Linked DNA regions of Homo sapiens. The protein of the gene in region 4 purifies or fractionates together with the protein of the main gene of each other region. This does not show direct contact. Each region holds a gene or a part of one and is shown on either strand. Other genes may lie near its edges.

Evidence for each region.
Region 1: the proteins of PGD (region 4) and ABAT fractionate together in Homo sapiens (co-fractionation; one large-scale study listed by BioGRID). This does not show direct contact.
Region 2: the proteins of PGD (region 4) and GSTO1 fractionate together in Homo sapiens (co-fractionation; one large-scale study listed by BioGRID). This does not show direct contact.
Region 3: the proteins of PGD (region 4) and TALDO1 fractionate together in Homo sapiens (co-fractionation; one large-scale study listed by BioGRID). This does not show direct contact.
Region 5: the proteins of PGD (region 4) and HEBP1 fractionate together in Homo sapiens (co-fractionation; one large-scale study listed by BioGRID). This does not show direct contact.
Region 6: the proteins of PGD (region 4) and ALDH7A1 fractionate together in Homo sapiens (co-fractionation; one large-scale study listed by BioGRID). This does not show direct contact.
Region 7: the proteins of PGD (region 4) and OXCT1 fractionate together in Homo sapiens (co-fractionation; one large-scale study listed by BioGRID). This does not show direct contact.

What each region holds. Positions count from the first base shown.
Region 1 is NC_000016.10:8,775,617-8,779,116, reverse strand, and holds part of ABAT (4-aminobutyrate aminotransferase, mitochondrial isoform 1 precursor), read right to left. Parts: intron 2,774-3,500; coding exon 2,627-2,773; intron 1-2,626. UniProt on the Homo sapiens protein: Catalyzes the conversion of gamma-aminobutyrate and L-beta-aminoisobutyrate to succinate semialdehyde and methylmalonate semialdehyde, respectively. Can also convert delta-aminovalerate and beta-alanine.
Region 2 is NC_000010.11:104,253,638-104,257,691, forward strand, and holds the start of GSTO1 (glutathione S-transferase omega-1), read left to right. Parts: upstream 1-1,254; 5' UTR 1,255-1,291; coding exon 1,292-1,325; intron 1,326-1,525; coding exon 1,526-1,634; intron 1,635-4,054. UniProt on the Homo sapiens protein: Exhibits glutathione-dependent thiol transferase and dehydroascorbate reductase activities. Has S-(phenacyl)glutathione reductase activity. Also has glutathione S-transferase activity.
Region 3 is NC_000011.10:753,964-757,463, reverse strand, and holds part of TALDO1 (transaldolase), read right to left. Parts: intron 1,586-3,500; coding exon 1,462-1,585; intron 1-1,461. UniProt on the Homo sapiens protein: Catalyzes the rate-limiting step of the non-oxidative phase in the pentose phosphate pathway. Catalyzes the reversible conversion of sedheptulose-7-phosphate and D-glyceraldehyde 3-phosphate into erythrose-4-phosphate and beta-D-fructose 6-phosphate.
Region 4 is NC_000001.11:10,402,064-10,405,563, reverse strand, and holds part of PGD (6-phosphogluconate dehydrogenase, decarboxylating), read right to left. Parts: intron 2,494-3,500; coding exon 2,428-2,493; intron 1,404-2,427; coding exon 1,285-1,403; intron 1-1,284. UniProt on the Homo sapiens protein: Catalyzes the oxidative decarboxylation of 6-phosphogluconate to ribulose 5-phosphate and CO(2), with concomitant reduction of NADP to NADPH.
Region 5 is NC_000012.12:12,976,266-12,979,765, reverse strand, and holds part of HEBP1 (heme-binding protein 1), read left to right. Parts: intron 1-143; exon of another isoform or gene 144-335; intron 336-744; exon of another isoform or gene 745-825; intron 826-3,500.
Region 6 is NC_000005.10:126,553,720-126,557,219, reverse strand, and holds part of ALDH7A1 (alpha-aminoadipic semialdehyde dehydrogenase isoform 1 precursor), read left to right. Parts: intron 1-1,204; coding exon 1,205-1,289; intron 1,290-2,826; coding exon 2,827-2,933; intron 2,934-3,500.
Region 7 is NC_000005.10:41,804,426-41,807,925, reverse strand, and holds part of OXCT1 (succinyl-CoA:3-ketoacid coenzyme A transferase 1, mitochondrial isoform 3 precursor), read left to right. Parts: intron 1-487; coding exon 488-595; intron 596-2,244; coding exon 2,245-2,359; intron 2,360-3,500. UniProt on the Homo sapiens protein: Key enzyme for ketone body catabolism.

The DNA.
Region 1 (3,500 bases), on a different chromosome or scaffold from region 4:
ACGATAAGGTTCACATGTTAAGTCCTAAGCCTGGGGCTGGGCACTTGGTGGATGCTCCACAGATGTTAGCCATCTCCATCGTCAGCTCTTCTAGAAAGGTGGTTCTTCTGGAAGAAGAAATGCCTGTCCTCCCTCAGGGCTTTGAGACTGGGAGCTGTACTGGATTGAATAGTTTCCTCCCACTGCCCCCTAAATTCATGTTTACCTGGAACCTATGACTAGGACCTAATTTGGAAATAAGGTCTTCGCAGAAATAATTAGTTAGGTTAAAATGAAGTCTTCCTGCATTAGAATGGCCCCTAATGCAATGACTGTTTTTTGTTTTTTGTTTTTTTTTTTTGAGATGGAGTCTCACTCTGTTGCCCTGGCTGGAGTGCAGTGGCACTATCTCGGCTCACTGCATCCTCTGCCTCCCAGGTTCAAAGATTCTTGTGCTTCAGCCTCCTAAATACCTGGGATTACAGGCACCTGCCATCACACCTGGCTAACTTTTTTTTGTAGTTTTAGTAGAAACTGGTTTCACAATGTAGGCCAGGCTGGTTTCGAACTCCTGACCTCAAGTGATCCACCTGCCTTGGCCTCCCAAAGTGCTGGGATTACAGGTGTGAGCCACAGCGCCCGGCTCAATGACTGGTATCTTTATAAGAAGAAGACAATCTGGAGACAGACACAGGCACAGTGGGGAGAACACCAAGTGACGCCAGAAGCAGAGTGAAGCCTCCACACGTCAAGGAACATGAAGGATTCCCGGCAGCCACGAGAAGGTGGAGAGGGGCATGGAACAGATTCTCCCCCAGAGCCTCGAGAAGGAGCCAACTCTGCTGAAACCTTGATTTCAGACCCTGGCCTCCAAACTGTGAGAGAATAAATTCTTGTTTTAACCCACACAGTTTGTGGTGATTTTTTACAGCAGACAAGGAAACAAATGCAGGTGCCTAGTCTGGAGGACCTTGATTTCACCTTACTCTCTGCTGTCCATATGAAGGACAGCAAACAAGGGCTTGGAAAACCCCAAATAATTTCAGGGTACTGGGGGCTGAGTTGGGGGAGCAAGTCTTATTTCACGGCAGCTCATTGGTAGAAACTGGAGACATGGTCCTATTCTGGGGGTGACAGAGCCGGGCACCGTGTTAGACACTTATGTGCACAATTTGTTTCTTTTTGTGGAGTATGGGTTCTCACCATGTTGCCCGGGCTGGTCTCAAACTCAGTTGAGCTGAAGGCAATCCTCCTGCTTCTGCCTCCCTAAGTACTGGGGTTACAGGCATGAGCCCCTGTGCCTGGCAGTGGGCACATTCTTGAATCCCCTGCCAGTGAAGAAGGGCTCACTTTGGTCTACACAGATAAGGAAACTGAGGCTCAGAAGTCCTTCCAGCACTTACTCTAGCATGTTCCTTGCACTTGTCAATTGCTGGGGAGCTGGCAGTTTGAACACACCCCTCCCTCTCCCACAGAGTGTGGCCCTGGGATGGTTTAGATTAAAGTCTCTTCCATTTAGACACCCCTTTAGGCCTGCCTGCCACACTCACACACACACATCCCCACACGTCCTTACGGTTAGGAGTGACCACGTGACCAGCTCTTAATCAAGTGTTAGAAGTATTATGTGAGATTTCTGGGAAGGCTGCTAAAGACAAGAAGGGGGCCACTCTGTCCTTCCCTTCTTTTTCCTTCCTATTGCCTGGAATTGAGATGCGATGGCTGGAGCTCCAGGAGCCATTTTGGCCCATGACGAAACCTTGAGGGTAGAGAGTAATCCAGCTCCAGCAGGGGAGGGCAGTGCTGCCGAGTGGTAAGTATGCAACAGGTTGCACAAAGGCGGGAATAATGAACACACTAGAGGGGGTGAGAGAGGGAGTGCTTGGGGGACTCTCAAAGGGGGGATGTCTGAAATTGGTGTCAAAAGATAACCAGGGCCGGGCACGGTGGCCCATGCTCGTGAAATCCCAGCACTTTGGGAGGCTGAGGCAAGCGGATCACCTGAGGTCGGGGGTTCGAGACCAGCCTGGCCAACATGGTGAAACCCTGTCTCTATTCAAAATACAAAAAAATTAGTAGGGCATAACGGCACATGCCCGTAATCCCAGCTACTTGGGAGGCTGAGGCCGGAGAATCTCCTGAACCCAGGAGGCAGCGGTTGCGGTGAGCTGAGATTGCGCCACTGCACTCCAGCCTGGGTACAAAGCAAGACTTGGTCTCAAAAAATAAATAGACAAATAAAATAAAATAAAATAAATAAGAAAGATAACCAGTGCCGGCAGGCGCTGCCCAGCACTTTGGGAGGCTGAGGTGGAAGGATCGTTTGAGGCCAGGAGTTCAAGGCCGGACTGGCTAACAGAGCTTGACCATGTCTCAATATTAAAAAAATAAAAAATAAATTAAAAAAAACAACAACAAAGAAAACCAGGAGTTCAGGAATAGGGGTTGGAATGGGATGGAGGGATAGGGAGGCATCCCCTGCAGAGGACACAGCATGTGCAAAGCCCCCAAGGCTAGGAGCAGCACAGCCCGTTACGAACTGCTGGAACAGCAGGCACAACACCATGCCGAAGAGCTCCAGTGTTGCCCCGGAGGCTGCTGCGGGGAGCCATGGGTGGTGGGGGCGGGGCAGGGGAGGGGGTGTTACCTGGAGGTCCAGCAGTCCTGTGAGCAGGGCCTTCCCGGCATGGGCTGCATTATTTAGCAGGTCCTCCCGCTTGATGATGTTGATGACCTCAGCCAGCAACAGGTTCTTGGACGGGTCCCCCAGCCAGGTGTTGAAGATCCGGTAGGGCTGGAATGAGGAACGGGTGTTGGAAGGCTTCACACACATGCACACCCTGCAGGAGTCACTTACCCCAGGCGCCCCGCCTCCTCTCTTGAAGAGGAGAGAAACTAATCTAGTGGGCATCTACCAGAGGCTGGCAGGGGAACACACCCAATCTCGCTGAATTCTTCTCTACCAGAGGCTAGCAGGAGAACACACCCAATCTTGCTGAATTCTTCCAACAGCAGCCCTGCATGTAGGAACTGCTATGGGGAGGACCAAATCGTCCCATGCACTGGGAAATCCCTCAGTCCCAGGAAACCAAGACAGTCAGTTCCTTAACTCCTATAACCCTCATTTTATACAGGAGGAAGCTGAGGTTCTGGGAGGCTAAGTGATTTGTCTAAGGCAAACGTGACTTACAGATGGAGTTGGGACTGGATTGCTGGCAGTGACCCTCAAAGATCATCCACTTTACCCCTCCATGAATGATTTAGGGTGGCCATGCGGCTAACTGAAACACCCTTCCCAGCCTCCCTTATGGCTAGAAGTGGCCATGTGACTGGGTCTTAGTCAAGTATTGGAAATAGACATATTATGTGAGATTTCTAGAAAGGCTGCTAAAGACAAGAAGGGGGCCACTTTGTCCTTCCCTTCTTTTTCTTTCCTACTGCCTAGAATTGAGATGTGATGGCTGGAGCATCAGAAGCCATTTTGGACCATGAGGCAACCTTGAGGGTAGAAACTACATGTA
Region 2 (4,054 bases), on a different chromosome or scaffold from region 4:
TGCTGTCTCCTATGGGTTAAAATGAAAAGGATGTATCCTACAGGTGACGGTAGGGACAGAGGCCCTCCCAGTAGTCACGTTAAGCTAGTACTGACAGAAAAAGGAAAAGCCTGTCCAGGTGGCTGGGCAACCCTGCAGCGAGGCATAGATGAGCTTGTAAATCAAAGGAAATGACCAAGGTGAGTCTCAATCCTTTTAGAGGTTTATTTTGCCAAGGTTGAGGACACATCTGAGAAAAAGGAACACAAAATCACAGGAACATCTGTGATCTGTGCTCTTTCCAAAGAGGGCTTGAGGACTTCAATATTTAAAGGGAAAGAGCAGGCAGTAGGGGAAAGTGGAAAGTAAAAAGGGAAGGTAGATAAAAGGGGAGAGTAGTTGCATTCTTTGGGGCCTTTGATCAGCATTCACTGAATGCGCATGTTACATTCGTGAAAGGAGGTCGTAGAGGAATAGTCAGTTATGCATTCGTCTAGTGCTTGGTGAATCTGCATTTTTACAAGATTAAATATAGGGTAGAGGAAGCGGTCAAATTGCATTTTTCTCCAGCGAGAGGAAGGATGACTCCTAGACCTGTCTTTGTCCCATACTTGGGAAGATAAGCTGTTAGTTTACATTGCCAAGATGAAATTCAACTGATCTGTTTTAGAGTAAAGATCTTGCGGGCCAACAAGGAATTTCCTTGGGGAGGTGTGTGGCCTTTGATCTTTGTAGCTATTTAGCAACAAAATGGGAGGCAGTGTTGCCTGACTCAGTTTCCAAGCTTGACTCTTCCCTTTGGCATAGTGAGTTTGGAGTCAAGAGATTTTTATTTTCCCTTCACAAGCTGAACAGGAGCCTTTGGAGAGAACGCTCTGGACCGGTGAGTGAGCCATGAGGTCGGGCCACAGGCTCTGAAGTCGTGAAGCCTTGGGACGGAGCGGGTGGTGCTTCGAGGTCAGTGTCACGGGAGGGAGGTCAGGGTCAGGGTCAGACGTGGAGCCCCGTGGAGTGCGGAGTGGTGACCCCTTCGTTCGGGGGCGGAGGGATGACTGAGCATTTATAACTTTTGTGTATCTCCCCGTGGGTGCAGCCCTTGGCCAGCGAGATGCTTTGACACAGCCCCTTAAGATGTTTTAAGGGCTATCCCATAAAGCCGGGAAGGCACAACGGGTGGAGCTGGCGGCCGCCGGGGGCAGGCACTTTTGAGCTAAGGAGGAAGCGGGGGAGGGAAGGAGGGCGGGAAGGACGCGCCACCTACTTCCTGAATCCCCTGCAAACCCCAGAGGAGCTCGGCCTGCGCTGCGCCACGATGTCCGGGGAGTCAGCCAGGAGCTTGGGGAAGGGTGAGGCCTGCCCGCCGCGAAGAGGGGGTGATCTCGGCGACCCCCGGCGGCATGTTCGAGGCTGCTCCGGGAGCCCAGCCGCCCGGGAGCGCCCCACCGGCGGGGAACGGGTCGGAGCTGCAGTGGGACGCGGGGGCGGTGGGATACGGGGGGTCTCGACACCTCTCTGGGCCGTAATCGCCTTCGCTTCTCCCCGGCAGGAAGCGCGCCCCCGGGGCCGGTCCCGGAGGGCTCGATCCGCATCTACAGCATGAGGTTCTGCCCGTTTGCTGAGAGGACGCGTCTAGTCCTGAAGGCCAAGGGAATCAGGTGGGCACCCAGGCGGGGGACGCTCCCCGAGCCGTCCGGGAGCCTGCTGCAGGCGGCGGGGTGGGGTGGGGTCTCAGCCCCCTTCTACCCCCCTCCCACCAGCGTCCTTTACTGCACATTAAACTATTCTCGGCCCTTTGGAAAATAGCAAGTTATAGGCCATTCCCCTAGGAAAAATAGGCCACAGATTCCAACGGTCTAGGACACCTCATTTAGATTAACCAACCATTTAATGGATTAGAAAAGCTGAGGCTCCAGTGATGTTAGTGATTTGCCCGGTAATAACCGGCAGCAGCTCTTTTAGCTTTGGTAGGTCACGAATTCCTGGTCCAGAGTCCTTTCGCTTTCGCCCTATTGTGATTTCCCGTTCTTATTCCAGCTTAACTGTTAGTTGTTATTCTGAATGTATTGTTCCCTCCTAGAATAGTAATTTACCCCAGTACAGCAGAGTTTAGACCCTGACCCTCCTAGGGTAGTGCTGAGTTTACTGCACATATTCCTGTGGATTGGGCTGTTGGTTGAGTCAAATAGAGGGAAGTGTCTGTCTAGCTCATCCTTCTGCAGAGCCTGTTTTGAAACTAGCATAGTTTTTGACTTACGGGCTATCCACAGGATATGTGCAACAGTCACTTGACTTTTCTCTGACACCAAGTATCCATTGGAACCACTTCCCTTCCCATGACCTTTGGATGTCTGTTGATTAGACATTTATTAGATACCTTTGGTGTGGAAGGTTCTGTGGAAGTTTAAAACAAACCCCCTATTCTTAAGGAATTTTCTGTCTGTGTGCTTAGTGTTTGTGAACTAATTTTAGTCTTCTAAGGGGATAATCTTTAGGGGTAGGCAATTATTTTCCCTAAAAGAAAGGTAAAATGCATTTAAAAAATACATTTGAAGGGGATTTGTCATTACTTCACTAAGAAATGCATCTCATTTGGATGAGATTATGATTCTGAACACATAGAGTACTTACTATTTCATAATGTTTCTCAAAAACACTGTCATATTTGCTGTGATAGAACTCTTTTATTGTACTAAGAGAAATCTAATGTAACCAAAATTGAAAAAAGACATTTTTTGGTACTCATTTATTTGAAAAGTCCAGGAGCATGACACAGCTGGATTCAGAGGCACAAAGTCCTGGGTTATGTGCTTCACCCTGGACCTTTAGTTTGAAAACAACCCTACCTTATTTACTGGGGCAGTTTTCCAAAGGAACATTGAAACTATCTTCCCCTAATAGTGTGGGGTAGAGGGGAGGAAGAGAGTGGTTAACAGCTTCCAGACAGTGCAAACAACAAAGGTCTACTACATTAATAGACCAGTTTTAAGCTTGAGCCCGAGGAGGCTTTTACTGGGAAAGTACTAGATTTTAACCACATGATATGACTTAACAAAGCATGGTTTTCTCTAAAAGATGCATCTTCCAACTTGCTGTGGCAGGTGTGTAGACTTGTTGGCTCACAATGCCAGCTTACCAAAATTCATGTGTGTTCTGACATACTTTTTTTTTTTTAAATAACAAAAGCCCAGGATCTTTTTGTTTTCATAGTAACAAAAGTTTTTGTTTTATAGTTCAAAAATGTTGATAATTCTTTGGCAAGGAGCCAAATAATTTTTTTTTTTTTTGCAATGGCTGGTACTTAAGTGTCCAGTATTGTCAGCACATGAACCTTTTAAATTACATGCACACCTGTGCTCATGTTCAAATTGGATGTTCCTTTGTTTACATGGGGGATTATGTATTTAAATCCTCAAATGAAATGCTGTTCTAGCTACAGCTGTGGATGGGAAAATAGAAAACAAAAGGTATTGGTGTCTATTTTTTTTTTAGTAATCTGTTCTATTGAACATTTATTCAGCCTTGACAATCATATGGACCTAGCTCCTTTCTCTTAGTTCCTCTACAGTCTCAGGCAACATACAAGATAGACCTAAATACAATCTGACTATAGCCTGGACTTCACCTGTTTTCTTCCTTTTTGGTTTACTTTGTATGATTTACTCAGACAACATTTTTTAAAAAATCAGTACATGGAGATTTAATCTGAAAGCTTATTTTGTGGGTGGATTTTTTTTTTTTTTTCGAGACAGGGTCTCGCCCTGTCACCCAGGCTGGAATGCAGTGGTGCAATCATGGCTCACTGCAACCTCTGCCTCCAGGGCTCAAGCAATCTTCTCACCTCAGCATCCGGAGTAGCCGAGACTACAGGTGAGTACCACCACACTTGGCTAATTTTTATATTTTTTGTAGAGATAGGGTTTCATCATGTTGCCCAGGCTGGTCTTGAACTCCTGGGTTTAAGCAATCCGCCCACTGCAGTCTCCCAAGGTTCTGGGATTACAGATGTAAGCTACCAAGCCTGGCCTTGTGGGTGGATTTTAAGGATTCCTTAATATCTTCATAAAAACCAAGAAAC
Region 3 (3,500 bases), on a different chromosome or scaffold from region 4:
AATATTAGCCAGGTGTGGTGGCGTGCACCTGTAGTCCCAGCTACTTGGGAGGCTGAGGTGGGAGGCTGGCTTGAGCCTAGGATGTAGAGGCTGCAGTGAGCTGAGATTGTGACACTGCACTCCAGCCTAGGTGACAGAGCCAAACTCTATCTCAAAAAAAAAAAAAAAAAAAAATTTGGGGCCATCTGGACATGGGTGCAGGGCTCATCTGTTGATCACCCAGCCAAGCAAAGGCACCAATGTCACCCAATAACAGGAGCACCAAGGCCTCACTGATGCCACAGGGGTGCAACACCACGAGATGAGGAAAAGGGAGCTAAGAAGAGAGAGGAGAGGGTCAGACTCAGTGTCCAGAGTGGCTGTCACAACATGGTCAGGGGAGCCACTCACCAGCCACCTGGACCTAAGCAAAGCCAGTACCAGAGAGGGACCTGCTCCTGTGTGGTGCCCACGTTGCCTGCTCGGCACCATCTTCAAGCTTTGAATTATTACCCTGAAGAGAATCTAAAATGACATCTAAAATATGCAAAGCCACAGGCATGAAGAGGGCTCTACAGTTGCTTGGTTGGGTAAGGGAGTGGGGAGCTACTGCAAACAGGTACCAGAGAACATTCTGGGAGTTATAAAAGCTATTAAAAAATTAAAAAGCCAGGCACGGTGGCTCACGTCTGTAATCCGAGCACTGTGGGAGGCCAAGGCAGGTGGATCACTTGAGGTAAGAAGTTCGAGACCGGCCTGGCCAACATGGTGAAACCCTGTCTCCACCAAAAATACAAAAATTATAGCCAGGTGTGATGGCGCATGCCTGTAATCCCAGCTGCTCGGCAGGCTGAGGCAGGAGAATCGCTTGAATCTGGGAGGCAGAGGTTGCGGTGAGCCGAGATTGTGCCAGTGCACTCCAGCCTGGACAACAAAAGCAAAACTCTGTCTCAAAAAAAAAAAAAAAAAAAATACAAAAATGAGCCAGGAGTGGTGGCACACACCTGTAAGCCCAGCTAATTGGGAAGCTGAGGCAGGAGAATTGCTTGCACCAGGGAGGCGGAAGTTGTAGTGAGCCAAGATTGCTCCACTATACTCCAGCCTGGGTGACACAGCGAGACTCCGTCTGAAAAGTAAAAAATAAAATGACAGCCAGAAGGTAAGTGTTACCAGAGCTGGGGAGACTGACTACAGGAGGGGAGGAGGGGCCTGTGGGGGTCTGCAAGTGCTCTGCATCTTGACTGGGGTGGTATTTACAGGGTACACACATTGGCAAAACTCTCTGAACTGCTCATTTACCACAGGTGCAGGTTACTTCATGCAGATTACACTTCAATAAACAAAAATAGGCAAAAAGATAGGGTTTTTTTCCCCCCTTGAGTTCATGGTGTTTGAGAACTAAAATTCAGTTAGGGAGGGAAGCAAGGCCAACTAGACTAGCACGAGGGCCTAGCTGGGACCCTCCCGAGTCCAGGCACTCACCCGCCCAGCTTCCGGCCATAGGCAATCGCCTCCTCCACCAGCTCCTGGTAAGCGGGCATCTGTGCTGCGGCCAGGATCAGGGACGGGTTGGTGGTAGCATCCTGGGGCTTGTACTCGTCGATGGCTAGGGAAATAGTTTTCAAAAGCCAAAGTAAGTGGAGTACTTGCTTCCAACTGGAAACATGTGAAGGAACCCTGTAATTCCCCAGGACGTTAGGGGAGTCCAGAGCATTTCCGAAAGCGGGGTCCAGCCACACTTCTCACACCTTCTTCTGGGTCACTGAAGGTTCATCAAGAGGCGGCTGTTTGCATAATGATGGAACAACAAACACTAAGTGCCCAGCGATCAAATATGCCCCTGCAAGAGGTGACCTGTAACAGCATGGGAGTGAGCGGTGCGACAGCTGGGAGAACGCTGGTCAAAGGAAAATGTGCATCCCACTGCCGTACCACCACAAGGAGGCGCGCGGTCTAGTCATGAGCCACATGTGAACGCTGATCTTATGGACTGGGTCATTATCACCATACCCAGCTGCAACAGAGTCAAGAAGCCAAGGGGAGCTGGGCGCGGCGGCCCACGCCTGTAATCCCAGCACTTTGGGAGGCTGAAGCGGGTGGATCACGAGGTCAGGAGATCAAGACCATCCTGGCTAACACGGTGAAACCCCGTCTCTACTAAAAATACAAAAAACTAGCTGGGTGTGGTGGTCGGCACCTGTAGTCCCAGCTACTCGGGAGGCTGAGGCAGGAGAATGGCTTGAATCCAGTAGGCGGAGCTTGCAGTGAGCCGAGATCGCGCCACTGCACTCCAGCATGGGTGACAGAGTGAGACTCCATCTCAAAAAAAAAAAAAAAAAAAAAAAAAAAGGCCAAGGGGAAAAGCACTCAGGACACACAGCATTGCTCCAAAAATTATTACCTGCAAGCCTAGTTGCTGAAGCGGCCTCTAACCTGAAACCAGTTTATCTAATAGTTGCTGAACCGCACTGCTGCAACTTTAAGACTAATTTTATCCACTGCTATCACTCACCAATCATTCTTTTTAGGTTTCATAGAAAGACTAAATTAGCCAGGTGTGGTAGTGCATGCCTGTAGCGTCAGCTACTCAAGAGGCTGAGGCAGGAGGATCGCTTGAGCCCAGGAGGTTGAGACTGCAGTGAGCCATGATCATGCCACTACACTCCCACCTGGGCCAGAGAGCAAGACCCTATCTCTTAAAAAAATAAATTCAGGCCGGGTGCAGTGGCTCATGCCTGTAATCCCAGCATTTTGGGAGGCTGAGGCTGGTGGATCGCCTGAGGTCAGGAGTTTGAAACCAGCCTGGCCAAAATGGTGAAACCCAGTCTCTACTAAAAATACAAAAATGAGCTGGGTGTGGTGACACATGCCCGTAATCCCAGCTACTCAGGAGGCTGAGGCAAGAGAATCGCTTGAACCCAGGAGGTGGAGGTTGCAATGAGCTGAGATTGCACCACTGCACTCCAGCCTGGGTGACAGAGTGAGACTCTGTTTCATAAATAAATAAGCAAACAAATAAATAAATATCGCATTCAGTAGCTTCTGCAGGTAACTTGACAAAACCTGACCTAAGAATCCTTTTAGTCGGAGTGGACAACTTTGACAATGTCCCAAGTTTTTGTTCAAATTGTACTGGTGGTCCCTTTTATAAAGCTGACATTCTCTGCTTTAATCAACCCAGTCATAAAATGCTACTCAGTGGCTGGGCACAGTGGCTCACACCTGTAATCCCAGCACTTTGGGAGGCCAACGGGGGTGGATCACTTGAGGTCAGGAGTTCGAGACCAGCCTGGCTAACACGGCGAAACCCTGTCCCTACTAAAAATATAAAAATTAGCCAGGCGTGGTGGTGCATGCCTATAATCCCAGCTACTCGGGAGGCTGTGGCAGGAAAATCACTTGGACCCGGGAGGTGGAGGTTGCAGTGAGCCGAGATTGTGCCACTGCACTACAGCCTGGGCAATGGAGCAAGACTCTGTTGCAAAAAAAAATAAAAAAGTTTTTTTCTTCAGAGTAACCAA
Region 4 (3,500 bases):
CCAGCCTTAAAGAATCATATTTCAGACCAGGCACGGTGGCTCACGCCTGTAATCCCAGTACTTTGGGAGGCCAGGGCAAGCGGATTGCCCACAATTATTTATATATATATCGGATTGCCCACAATTATTTATATATATGTGTGTGTGTGTGTGTGTGTGTGTATTTTTTGTTTGTTTTGTTTTGTTTTGTTTTTGAAACAAACTCTCACTCTGTCGCCAGGGTGAAGTGCAGTGGCGCGATCTCGGCTCACTAACCTCTGCCTCCTAGGTTCAAGCAATTCTCCTGTCTCAGCCTCCCAAGTAGCTGGGACTACAGGCGCACGCCACCATGCCCGGCTAATTTTTGTATTTTTAGTAGAGACAGGAATTTACCATGTTGGCCAGGATCGTCTAGATCTCCTGACCTGGTGATCTGCCTGCCTCAGCCTCCCGAAGTGCTGGGATTACAGGCGTGAGCCACCACGCCCGGCCAATTTATATTTTTTAATTAAAAAAATGTTTGTTTTACTTTTTTGTAGAAACAGGATCTCGCTATGTTGTCCAGGCTAGTCTTCAACTCCTGGGCTCAAATGATCATTCACCGCAGCTTCCCAAAGTGCTGGGCAGTGATTACAGGCATGGGCCACTATGCCCAGCCTGTTACCCACGATTATCACATTAAGTTACTTTTGGGTTATATATCAGCTAAAAGAGGCAGACCTTATTCCTACATCCAGACATTGCACAGAACATTACCTAAACTGCTTCCTTAAAGCCTATTTAGAGGCCAAGTGTGGTGGTTCATGCCTGTAATCCCTGCACTTTGGGAGGCCAAGGCGGGCAGATCGCCTAAGGTCAGGAGTTCGAGACCACCCAAGGTAACATGGTGAAACCCTGTCTCTACTAAAAGGCAAAAAATTAGCCAGGCATGGTGGCATGTGCCTGTAGTCCCAGCTACTCAGGAGGCTGACGCACAAGAATTGCTTGAGCCCAGGAGACGGGGGGTGCAGTGAGCTAAGATCTCACCACTGCACTCCTGCCTGGGCGGGAAAAAAAAAAAAAGCCTATTTAGAACGTCAGGTATCAGTCTTGATAGAAATAACAGAAGAAAAAAGGCAAAAGAGGATTGTGCACATATACTATATCAAAGCAACAAAATGTCTAGATAAAAGAAATTGCCAGCATCTCCCAGCTGTCACACTCAGGGCACCACAGAGATCAGGGTGGCAGAACTGCTCCTGGCTTATTCGTTCTCAAAGTCCAGCTCCCTTGTACAGAGATGGGCACAGTGCTGATGGCACTCACCACGCTTCTTTGTTCCCTCCTGGCATGAGCGATGGGCCATACCGGGCCCCTTCCTCTCCACCACTGACTCCGCTCCCCACAAATAAAATTCCCTTGGCCTTGAGGTCTCGGCACCGTCTCTGAAGGACAGAAAAATAATTTCATTATGCTTCCATGTTTCATTATGCTTCCATGTTTCATTATGCTACCCAAAAATGTTTCCCTTATAAATGAGAGGAAGTATAAGATAGGAATGGAGAGCCTACATTTACAGGAAATGACCCAAGGATCTAGGAATAACTGATGACTCAGGAAAGTTAATCCCCTATGTGTAGGAGTTAAAAAACAAAACAATACAACTATGGACATTCACGATACCTACCTCATCCCCAAAGTAAAATAATTAAGCCAAACACACATTGGCATTTTACTGGAAAAGACCTTGAATAAGACTCAACGAAGAGTAGGTGTAATACAACTTAATGCCATTCAGCACTTCAGAGCACACAGGAATTCCCTCAGCATTTGATACCATTAGAGGAGTGGTTCTAAACCAGTTATAGACTGACATATCATGGATTACTTGGAAGGGGAAGGGGAGGAGTTAAAACGTAATTCTCAGCCTGCTGTATCTGAGTTAGTCATCCTTTGAGTTGTATGTGTGACTGAGAATCTCACCCACCAAGTGTCTTTTTTTTTTTTTTTTTTTTCAGATGGAGTTTCACTCTGTCGCCCAGGCTGGAGTGCAGTGGCATGATCTCGGCTCACTGCAACTTCTGCCTCCCAGGTTCAAACAATTCTCCTGCCTCAGCCTCCCAAGTAGCTGGGACTACAGGCGCATGCCACCATGCCAGGCTAATTTTTTGTATTTTTAGTAGAGACGGGTTTTCGCCATGTTAGCCAGGATGGTCTTGATCTCTTGACCTCTTGGTCCACCTGCCTCCGTCTCCCAAAGTGCTGGGATTACAGGTGTGAGCCACCACACCCGGCCCTTCTGTTAAGTGTGTCTTAACAGAAAAAAAGGCTGAGAACTATTGTATCAGTAGTAATCTCAAAAAAATCAGTACCACAGGGCAGTTCACCCTACTGTCACATATGCGATGCTGACACTTTTTTCTAGAATGTTCTCGGAACCTGGAAGAATCTGGACTGAAGAACACTTACTGTGGTGTCCCTATATTCAGAATTTCCTCCGTCAATGATGATGTCACCAGTATCCAACAATGGTACCTGTAACCAGACACCAGCATTAAGATGGACCAAAAATGAAACATACCTTGGCAAATTAAAACAAACAAGAATTTATTCCAAATAAACATAGTCTAAAAAGAGTCTCGTTCTGTTGCCCAGCTTGGAATGCAGGAGTGCGAACATGGCTCACTGAAACCCTGAACTCCTGCAGTGGTGTGAACATGACTCACTGCAACTTTGAACTCCTTGAACCACAATGCCCAGCTAGTTTTAAAATTTTTTTTGTAGGCCAGGCGCGGTGGCTCACGCCTGTTATCCCAGCACTTTGGGAGGCCGAGGTGGGTGGATCATAAGGTCAGGAGATCAAGACCATCCTGGCTAACATGGTGAAACCTCGTCTCTACTAAAAATACGAAAAATTAGCCGGGCGTTGTGGCAGGCGCCTTGTAGTCCCAGCTACTCGGGAGGCTGAGGCAGGAGAATGGCGTGAACCCGGGAGGTGGAGCTTGCAGTGAGCTGAGATCGCAACACTGCACTCCAGCCTGGGGGACAGAGTGAGACCCCGTCTCAAAAAAAAAAAATTTTTTTTGAGATGGAGTCTCACCATGTCGCCCAGGCTGGTCTCAAACTCCTGGGCTAAAAGCCTCCTGGCTTGGCAGGAGGCCAACGCACCCAGCCTACTTAATCTTCAATAATCCTCTCTGTGGCCAGAGCTGCACACTATTTAAAAGTTTAGGGCTGACCAGGCTCAGTGGCTCACACCTGTAATCCCAACACTTTGGGAGGTTGAGGCAGGAGGATCGCTTGAGCCCAGGAATTTGAGACCAGCATGGACAGCATAGCAAGACCCCATTTCTATTTTTAAGTAAGTATACAGATTAAACACTGACTATAATGTGTCTAGAAGAGAGTGGGGATTCAGTAAATACATATCAAATGGTTTAGTGTATGAATGAATGATTTTATGACAACAGTTCGGAGGTCAGGAAGAGACAGAGCCTTGAACATGAATATCTACCTACAGCACACCAACCAGGCTGGGCTTT
Region 5 (3,500 bases), on a different chromosome or scaffold from region 4:
AACACTGCCCTGGAGGAGAGCTTCTTTCAAGATGAGGCGTTTATAGATAAAGACGTATTCACAGGCTTACAAAGATAATGTATAGACTTCACGTTTCTTTCTTTTAGGGGCTCAAAGCACTTTATGAGCATTTCTTAACTCACCTTCAAGTGCGCGCAGGAATTCGGAGAGCAGTGGGCCCACTGTTATTGTGCTCCATGTCCAGATTGGAAGCTGAGGCACGAACCAATGAGGCAAAGTGTCTGTGAACACAAGCAGAGTCAGCCAGAGCTAGGCTCCCTTCATACACCAGGGGATTCCGGGTAGGGTTCAGTTTCTGGCTTGTTTGTGCAGTTCTGTGATGGGAGTCAGTGTGGTTGGTTAAATTAGCAGAGAGGAGAACTCATGTATCTGTTCCCATAGCCCACCCAGTTTGTTTGTTTTCCAGTAAAAGGATTCTACGATGAAGCAATAGGGAAAATTTTATCTGCATTACCAGCATTTCAGTCTGCCTGGGAATAAATGTAAAGAATTGGGGGTTTTCCCGGAGTGAATTTTAGGACTCCCTGAGTGATGACATTCTCCATCTCACTCTCTGCTGGGTTTCCTTCTGCTTCTCAGCCCCTTCTCACTGTCCTTTGACCGGTCCTCTTTCTTCACCCACCATTTAGATATTAGGATTCTAAGGAGCAAGCTTCTGGCCTGCTGTTTGCACAACATCTCTACCACATGTCACTTCTTACCATGATTATAGCCAGTACCTACCCACTGGGCACTCCCAAGTTTCTGTCACTAGATCCTTCTCCTTCCCAAATTGGTATCTCTGACTCCAGTTCTGTCCCAAGTCTAAGGAGATTTTTACATGGTCAGACACACATTTAGATAATAATTGTTGCATGAATGTATTTCACAGAGGGCCCTTAATATTCATATGCCCCCCAAACTAAATCATGAACACCCCTACAGCTGCCCCTCCTGCCTAATGTTACTCTTCAGCCTTTAATCCCTATTCTGGTTAGCGGCATCTTCTTCTACCCAGAGGCTTAACTGGAAGCCCTGGAGAATCCTCTCTTCCTTCCTCTCTCTTACCTCCCTCCACATACAGGTACCTCTCAAATCTGCCTTTCTCCCACCTTCATCATCTCACACTTGGCTGTTCCTGGGCTCCGGTGGCCCCACATCTCTCAACCCCTTGCCATTTCCCCTGTCCCTCCACTGCCAGCAGAGGGATCCTTCCAAAGCACAATTGGATCGTGCCAGTCCTCTACTTTAAAACCCTTTCCAGGCCGGGCGTGGTGGCTCACACCTGTAATCCCAGCACTTTAGGAGGCTGAGGCGGGTGGATCACCTGAGGTCAGGAGTTTGAGACCAGCCTGGCCAATACGGCAAAACCCCATCTGTACTAAAAATACAAAAATTAGCTGGGCGTGTGCCTGTAGTCCCAGCTACTCGGGAAGCTAAGGCAGGAGAATCACTTGAACCTGGGAGGCAGAGGTTGCAATGAGCCGAGATTGCGCCACTGCACTTCAGCCTGGGTAATAGAGTGAGACTCTGTCTCAAAAAAAAAAAAAAAAAAAAAAAAAAAAACCCTTTCGTAGGTCTACCTGTGCATATAGGATGAGGTTCAAACTCTTTAGCATGGCATTCAAGGCCTTCGCATCTGGCTGCAGTGGATCCACTTCTCCTGTTTCAGTTCCCACCACTGTCCCCTCAGATGTTTATTATGTGAATGAGTGAGTGAAACTTATGTAACCACTTCACTCACTAGGTCCTAAGTGCTGTCATCTTTAGCTCTGTCAGGCTGAAGACATCACTTTCATTGTTTAGCCCAGAATTGTTCATTTAACCAAGGGGTCCAACATATTCAGGCACTGTGTTAGGTGCTCAGTGTACATCAGTGACCAAAAAATAACAAAAATCCTGCCATTGTGCAGCCTATATTCTATCAGAGGACACAAACCATAAACAATAAACTTAATGAGTAAATTATATAGTATGTTAAAAGGTGATAAGTGCTGTTAAAAAAGAAAGAAAGAAAAAGTAAAACATAGGAAGAAGATTGGGATGGGGTTAAAGAATGGGGTTTACAAGGTAACAAAGCATTTTAAGAATAGGCCTAATTGAGAAAGTGAGAATTGTTCATTGAGCCAGTTCATAATATTACTATGGTTTTTTTTAGTTGTATTTTGTGTTTTTGTTTTGGAGACAGGATCTCACTATGTTGTCCAGGCTGGAATGCAGTGGCTATTCACAGATGTGATCATAGCACAGTGCAGCCTCAACTCCTGGCCTTGATCAGTCCTCCTGCCTCAGCCTCCCAAGTAGCTGGGACCACAGGCATGCACCACAACACTCAGCTACATGGTATTTCGTTAGATTACCATCATGTCCCTCACCCTGGAGTCAGGGAATTAAAAGGCTCTTCTGAGCAAACTGCCAAGTAACAATAATAGCTACTGTTTGTTGTGAGCTTACTACGTGACAGGCTCTGCGCTGAGCAGTTTGCATAGTCTTTTCTCCTTTAATCTTTACAGTAGCCTTCGAAGATTGATGTTATCACTATCCCTATTTTACCAGTGAAAAACCTGAAGATTTGAGAAATTTTAGAATTAGCTTAAGACCTAGAAAGGGCAGCACTAGGATTTGAGCACACACTAGCCATTTTGCCTCTAACTGATGAAGGAAGACATTTGAGGAGCACTCCTTTGGAGCTTTCCAAAATCAGTATTTAAAGAGCCAACATTGTCCCTTTTCCTAGAGAACAGTTCAGTGTCACAGCACAAGTAGGGGGTGCAGAGAGCACTCAACACCTGCTTCCACCTCCAGCACTTGATTCATTTCAGACAAATGGTTCTCCAACTAAAGACATGGTTCATAAAAAACTCCAGTGTCTTACAGGCTCTTATTGCCTGAAAAAAGTCTTTCCTGGATGTTCATTGTCTGTCTACTAACCCAGTTTCCTCTCATTTGAACCTCAATGAAGCTAGAGCCCAACTTTCTTCATCTCCCTTATAATCTCTTCAATATATTTGAAGAATCAAGCCTCTGCTATTCAAAATTGGTCTCAGTTTCATCCATGTTCTGTAGCTGTTGTCTAGACATTGGAACAACCAATCCATTACAGAAAACATCCTGGGTGTTCACATCAGTGATGCTGCAATCCACATGCTGAATGCTTGTCCAGCATGACTAACCACTTGTAAAAGAGCAAAGCATGATTCAGAGGACTCCACCAAAAATAATGCATTATTTGGCCTAATCTTGGCCTGGTGCAAATTCAGACTTTTGAGTCATACAGCTCATTAGAAATCGGGATGTACTTGACTCTAATAAAAATTTTAGTGCAACCCAGATTTAGAGTGGTATATTTAGGCTAGGCTACAAGACAAATTTTGGAACAGAAGCACATGACGTAAGGGAGAGAATAATAATCTTGAAAAGAAAGGCTTTATTGCTTCTCTGTCCCCAATTTCTGCCATCAAAAGAAATACCAGATTTAGGAACAGTCTCTTTCCTTACTA
Region 6 (3,500 bases), on a different chromosome or scaffold from region 4:
AATCTGATACTACATTTGTAACTTTAAAGTTTATTAAATTTGTTCACCATAAACATTAAATTGCGTTAAAGATTACGTTAAAGCTAAGAAAAAACCATGCACTCCAAATGATTATACCCTTCATTACATGGTAAAATATGAAATGACATAAAAGCCAAATATTTCTCTATTCAGCCAATTTTTATTTTTTTCATGTGTTTTGGAGCAAATATTCATAGACGTCTTTTATATTAGTTTTAAATATTAATAGGTAATATTAGTCATTGTCCAAATAGATTTCCTTAGAGTTAGCAGTAATATTTTTAAAAATTCCATTACTATGGACTGCTTCATGACTAGTTCTCATAATGTCAATTCATTCATCACATGTGGAGACTAACCCAGAGCATAGATGGTTTGGCAAGTTCAGCTCTGCCACTTGGAGCATAGCATGGACCTGACAACTACCCAGAGAATGCAAGGGTTGTCCTCACCTAATTAAGGCCTCCTCTGGAGACCTGTGTGGCCTGGGGTTAAGTGTTTGTAGTTACCCAGCAGAGGTCAGTTATGACTATGCTCTGTGTTCACTGGGACTTAGGGTTACAGTATGGGACACATGTACTTGAGGCCTTCTTTAATGTATTTGTGAAGCTTAGACAAATACATCCTTGGAAACTTGATGAAGATGTGGCTTATGGACCGGGTGTGGTGGCTCACACCTGTAATCCCAGCACTTTGGGAGACTGAGGTGGGTGGATCACCTGAGGTCAGGAGTTCAAGACCAGCCTAGGCAACATGGCAAAAGCCTGTCTCTACTAAAAATACAAAAAATTAGCCAGGTGTGGTGGTGGGTGCCTGTAATTCCAGCTGCTCGGGAGGCTGAGGTATAAGAATCGCTTGAACCCGGGAAGTGGAGGTTGCAGTGAGCTGAGATCATGCCACTGCACTCCAGCCTGGGTGACAGAGTGAGACTCTGTCTCAAAAAAAAAAAAAAAAAAAAAGACATGGCTTATGATTTTATTCTATTATCTACCTAAAAGGAAAATTTTGACTTCATATAGTTAATATTAAAATGATAAATTATATAATTAAAAAAATAAACATGCTTTGATTTTCTTATATTTTTAGAGATTACAGTATTTCAGTAACTATCAAGGAAATTATTCATTGTTTAAAAATGTGTGCATTTATCATACTATGCCCTTGAATATCTTTTTTCGTTTAGTTTATACATGAAAGCATCCATGATGAGGTTGTAAACAGACTTAAAAAGGCCTATGCACAGATCCGAGTTGGGAACCCATGGGACCGTGAGTATCTCCTTCTGCTTTCAAAGCGATCCCTTTTTGAGAGCTGTTGTTAACAAGTGTTTCTGATCTGAGTTTTGGAGTTTCTTTCCCTTTCCTGAGAGGCGTGAAGGCACATGAAGCAGGTTATTAGGCTTTGGTGTATCGTGTCTGCTCCTAGGTTTCGACCCTGGCTGCTTGATGTGTGCTAGTGGGTGAGACTGGGAGAGGTTGTTTAGATGGAATGAGATTTAGTGTGCTTCTCTCTCATTACTATTACCCTTGTCCAAGCCGACACCATCCCTCTTGTGCAAGGCTGCAAGAATCCCCTAACTGACCTTTCTGCATCCATTGCTACAGAATGATTTTTAAAATGCAATCAGATAATTCACTCTCCTGCTTAAAATACCCCTCAGTAACTTCTCATTGCTTTTAGATTTTTTTTCCTTTCTTTTTTTTTTTTTTTTTTTTTGAGACACAGTTTCACTCTGTTGCTCAGGCTGGAGTGCAGTGGCTTGATCTCAGCTCACTGCAGCCTCCGCCTCCTGGGTTCAAGCAGTTCTCCTGCCTCAGCCTCTCGAATAGCTGGGATTACAGGTGCATTCCACCACGCTTGACTGATTTTCATATTTTTAGTAGAGACAGGGTTTTGCCACGTTGGCCAGGCTGGTCTCGAACACCTGACCTCAAGCAGTCTGCCTGCCTGGGCCTCCCAAAGTGCTAAGATTACAGGTGTGAGCCATTGCGCCAGGCCTGCTTTTAGATTAAAACCGAGAGTCCTCTTGATTTCTTCTTTTTTGCAGGCTCCCGATCCTTCCTGGTCTGCTCTCTGCCTCCTGCCCCGCTTGCCTTCTCACCAGCCTTTCTGTGTCTATTTTCCCTCTTGCTCCCAGAGCTCCACCTTCTCCAACATCCTTTCAGTGTTCCAGGCATGCCAGGCTCTATCCTACTGTGCTGTCTGCTGGAAACATTCTTCACCCAGAGTGGGGATGGCTCTGCTAACATGCCTCCTCCTCATAGAGGCCTACCTACATCTTCCTTCTTCTTTGTTGCTGGGTCACTGTCAGTGCTCTAGTCCCCAGCAGCCGTAACATAGGACAGCATCATTCTCTTCCCCCTTGAATTATACACCAACTACTGAGACTGTGATGTTTCCTTAGAGAATGGTCACACTGTAATGAGTAAACTGACCCTATATTTTGAGTGCAGTGCTTTGAGTAATTGATAGCCATTCCTTTAAACTAGAGATTGGCAAACAGACTTGGCTCTGCCTGTTTCTGTAAAAAAAAGTTTCTCGGCACATACCCACTCATTTGCATGTCATTTATGGCTGCTTTTGCACTACAATTACGGAGTTGAGTATTGGGATGGAGATCACGTATGTCCTCCAAAGCATAAAATATTTACCATCTGGTTCTTTATGGAAAAAGGATGCTGACTTATGTTCTCAATTGAGAGCATATAGGAAGGGATTGGTCTGTTCATTGAGAAAGCTGTTCTAATAATAAAACGATGCCATAAAGGGCAAAATGATGAGCCAGCCTTCCTTTTCTCTCTCCAGCTAATGTTCTCTATGGGCCACTCCACACCAAGCAGGCAGTGAGCATGTTTCTTGGAGCAGTGGAAGAAGCAAAGAAAGAAGGTGGCACAGTGGTCTATGGGGGCAAGGTAAGGGATGCTCTGAGATCAATTGTGACAGCTTTTTAACCTTCTTTTCCCTGAGACACAAGCAGGGCTCTGGGCATATTGGAAAAGCCACCCCATTTGACATCCTTCTTCTCCTGTCTTTATTTATATATATTATTATAAAACAAGGAAACACATGTTTTTGTTTGTTTGTCTGTTTTTGAGACAGAGTCTTACTCTGTGCCCAGGATGGAGTGCAGTGGCGCAATCTTGGCTCACGGCAACCTCCGCCTCCCAGGTTCAAGTGATTCTCCTGCTTCAGCCTCCCGAGTAGCTGGGATTACAGGTGCATGTCACCACACCCAGCTAATTTTTATATTTTTTGGTAGAGATGGGGTTTCCCATGTTAGCCAGGCTGGTCTCTAACTCCTGGCCTCAAGTGATCCACCCACCCTGGCCTCCTAAGGTGTTGGGATTACAGGCATGAACCACCACACTTGGCTCTGTTTGTTTTTGTGACAGGGTCTTGCTCTGCCACCTAGGCTGGAGTGCAGTGGTGCACGATCTCAGCTCACTGCACCCTCTTCCTCCTGGACTAAAGCAATCCTC
Region 7 (3,500 bases), on a different chromosome or scaffold from region 4:
AATTTACAACTGTTACAAATAGCATTTGTATCTATATTTAAAAAGCTCTTCAATTGACCAAGCAGATGTTATTACAGATTTTTGTCTTTGATATGATAAATTTCCCATTAATTTAGAAAATCTGTGTTTAAGGAATGTGCTATCATTGCATAGTTGAACTGCAATTTGTGAAAGTTCAAGCTGCTGTACTGACAAACCATTTGACAAATTTGTAACTGAGACTCTTTTAAGCAAAGACTAACTTCTGGAGCCTAATGGTCTGTATTTTCTGTTCAGACGCATACACTTTAATTTCTTCTCTTTTGTGGGTCCAGGAGGTGTGATAGACATTACCTATATGTATACATATACATACATAGATATATGTCCATATTCCGTCATATGTTTGCAGCCTAAGTTGTATGTGAAGTTGTGTATACTTTTTAAAAAATTAAAAATGTTCACTTTAAGCTTTCACTAACTTTGAAAGAAATTTCTCTTTGTCTAGGTTGAAGAAATTGTGGATATTGGAGCATTTGCTCCAGAAGACATCCATATTCCTCAGATTTATGTACATCGCCTTATAAAGGGAGAAAAATATGAGAAAAGAATTGAGGTAATTGACTTAGCTGCTTTGTCAGTATTCATGGATCCAGTTACAGAGATAGTGCATCCCTGGGGCCATTCGAGATGATGGGGAACTAGAGCTGAGCAGAAAGTCTGGTCTTGGATCTTAGTAAGAGCTTCTCATGTGTCTATCATCATGGGGATATGATGGTCTATGCCTCTGTGCAGGCTGACAGTGCCTTGTCATCACAAGATATGTATCACCATGCCATGAGATTCTCTAGGCTGTGTCTACTAGGCTTCTACTGTCCTAATTTATGATCTGTAGTTTTTCTGGCTGTCTTAGAGGGGAGATAAGAATAATCATGTCTTTGGTGGTTTTATCCCTGCTGTAGTCTTATCTTAATGTTTGATTGTTCAGAATTGTCTGTCTTGAAGGTGCTTTGCACTTTTCTAGAGTGTAGAATGTCATTCTAATTAGCTTCAGGCTGTGGGTAGCTGGTGAGTATGAGATTGTGGCAAGGAGTGTAGGTACCAGGAGCATTGAAGGTATTCTAAGGCCAGTGTGTTAGTCCCTTTTGCATTGCTGTAAAAGAATACCTGAGACTGGGTAATTTATAAAGAAGTTTGTTTGGCTCACACTTCTGTGGGCTATACGTGAAGCATGGCACCAGCATCTGCTTCTGGTCAGGACCTCAGGAAGCTTTTACTCAGAGCAGAAGGAAAAGGGGAAGCAGGCATGTCACAAGGCGAGAGAGAGAGAAGGTGCCAGGCTCCTTTAGACAACCAGCTCGTGTGTAAACGAACAGAGGGAGAACTCCTGCATTTCCAAGGGATGGCACTAAGCCAATTCATAAGGGATCTGCATCCATGATCCAACACTTCCCACTAGGCCGCATCTCCAACATTGGAAAGTACATTTCAACCTGAGATTTGGAGGGGACACATATCTAAATCATCAGCCAGTGAGAGTAGACAATGGCCACCCTACCAGAATTACTGTCATGATTTAGAAGTGTCTAGGGATCAGCAACAGAATAGACATACAGTAGGGTGCTAGAGATACCCACTACCTTGTAGATATCAAACAGGAAGACATTTTATAATACAAAACCAGTGTCAGGGGCCCAGGAAGAAAGGATGAGACTTTTGCAAACACGAGCCAGAGTTTGTGTCAAAGAGACTTAATAGAGGAAATAGTTTCCTGGCTGGTTTCTGGGTATTTCTATGATTCCTGTGGTGCATTTGTGGTAAAAATAGTCTGGACTTTGCAGGTGGAAACAGGCAATTGGCAGCAGCAACACCTGGTAAACACATTCTGACAGCCCTGAAAAACACATTCCCAAAGTCTGTTCCTCTTTCATTCTTCTGGCCAATCCCTGAGCACCAGAGGAGAATTTAGTTGGAAGAATAACAGAAGGAGCAGACAGTGTGATAGTAACAGATTATTTGCTTCAAACAGACTGAACAGCGTATCTTCCTCTTTAAACAAATCTGACCACTTTCATTTAGTTCCTAAAGAATTATTTCTACCATCAAATATCACCCATAGTATTTTTTAAATATCTGGTATATTGCAGATTTGTCTCATAACAATGGGAGAGAGCTCATCTTTTTTTCCAGTAAAATTTATTTCAGCAGTGATAAAATACAAAGCATACCTCAACCACGAATAATTTATTTCTGTTTAATTTAAAGCGTTTATCAATCCGGAAAGAGGGAGATGGGGAAGCCAAATCTGCTAAACCTGGAGATGACGTAAGGGAACGAATCATCAAGAGGGCCGCTCTTGAGTTTGAGGATGGCATGTATGGTATCCTTTATCCTTCTGAGCCCGGGCAAAGACATAGCCTTTGCTTTTCCCATATTGATCAGGCTATTAGACCTCTTGCATAGTGAGTCATCTCTAGTCTATGGTAACTTTTAAGGTAATTAATCAATTTTTTTTTTTTTTTTACAAAATGTGGCATATAATCCAAAGGTGTCAAGATACATGACAGATATCTCTTTGCCTTCTTGAAACAAAATGGCAATCAATAATTTGCTTAGCTATTTTCTAATACCCATTAGATTTCAGTACAACTTGCATTTAATGGGAGATTATTGGGAAAAGAGATTACCCAAGATGAGTGTTTTCAAATCTCAGAATTCCTAGTGATAACCAGTGCTATTTACTTTCTGTCTATCCTGACATTTGCATACTCATTGAAAGATCCAACTTCTTAACAACCCTTTTATTCTCTTGACAAAGATCCTGTGATTACCCTGTTATATCTAATATTTTATGAGGGTATTCAACAAATGATTCAAATTCTGCTTTAGATACTTTGTCAAAAAAAGAGGTAGAGTAGACATAATTAATGCAATTAATATTTGGATTTTGAATGCATTTAAATAACAAATCTGTTCACCATTTTGCTAGTTTTCACTACAGTAGACATTGAATTATATAATACAAATAACACATACAAATACAGATCGCATATGATAAAATGAATGTTTGTTGAATGGTGGATACAGTGAAGCCATACTTAAAAGACCTAGGACAGAAAGAATGAGAGACATGACAAATGTCTCCATTCTGTGAGCTTCCCTGGTCCATGAATGTCAGTCTTCCAGACTGTGATCTTGACTGGGAGAACTTTTCTTTTTTCCCTTTCTTTTTACCTCTACCTCATTTTTGTTCATTTTTCAGTTTATACCTTGTGTTATGGTGCAAACTCACATAGGGGAAAAGAATAGCATGTTGCTGCTCTTCCAGTTCTTGTATCAGCAAGGTGTGGTGTCAACCAAGTTGAGTTAGTAGGTAAAAGTTGGTCACTGGACTTCTCAACCCGTCTTATCCTGACTTACCATTGATATTTAAACACTGACTATAATACTGATTTTAGGTGTTCTTTATTCAGTTATTGTATTGCCTGTGAAAAATATTTGCAAGTCAGTTTATGCAAGTG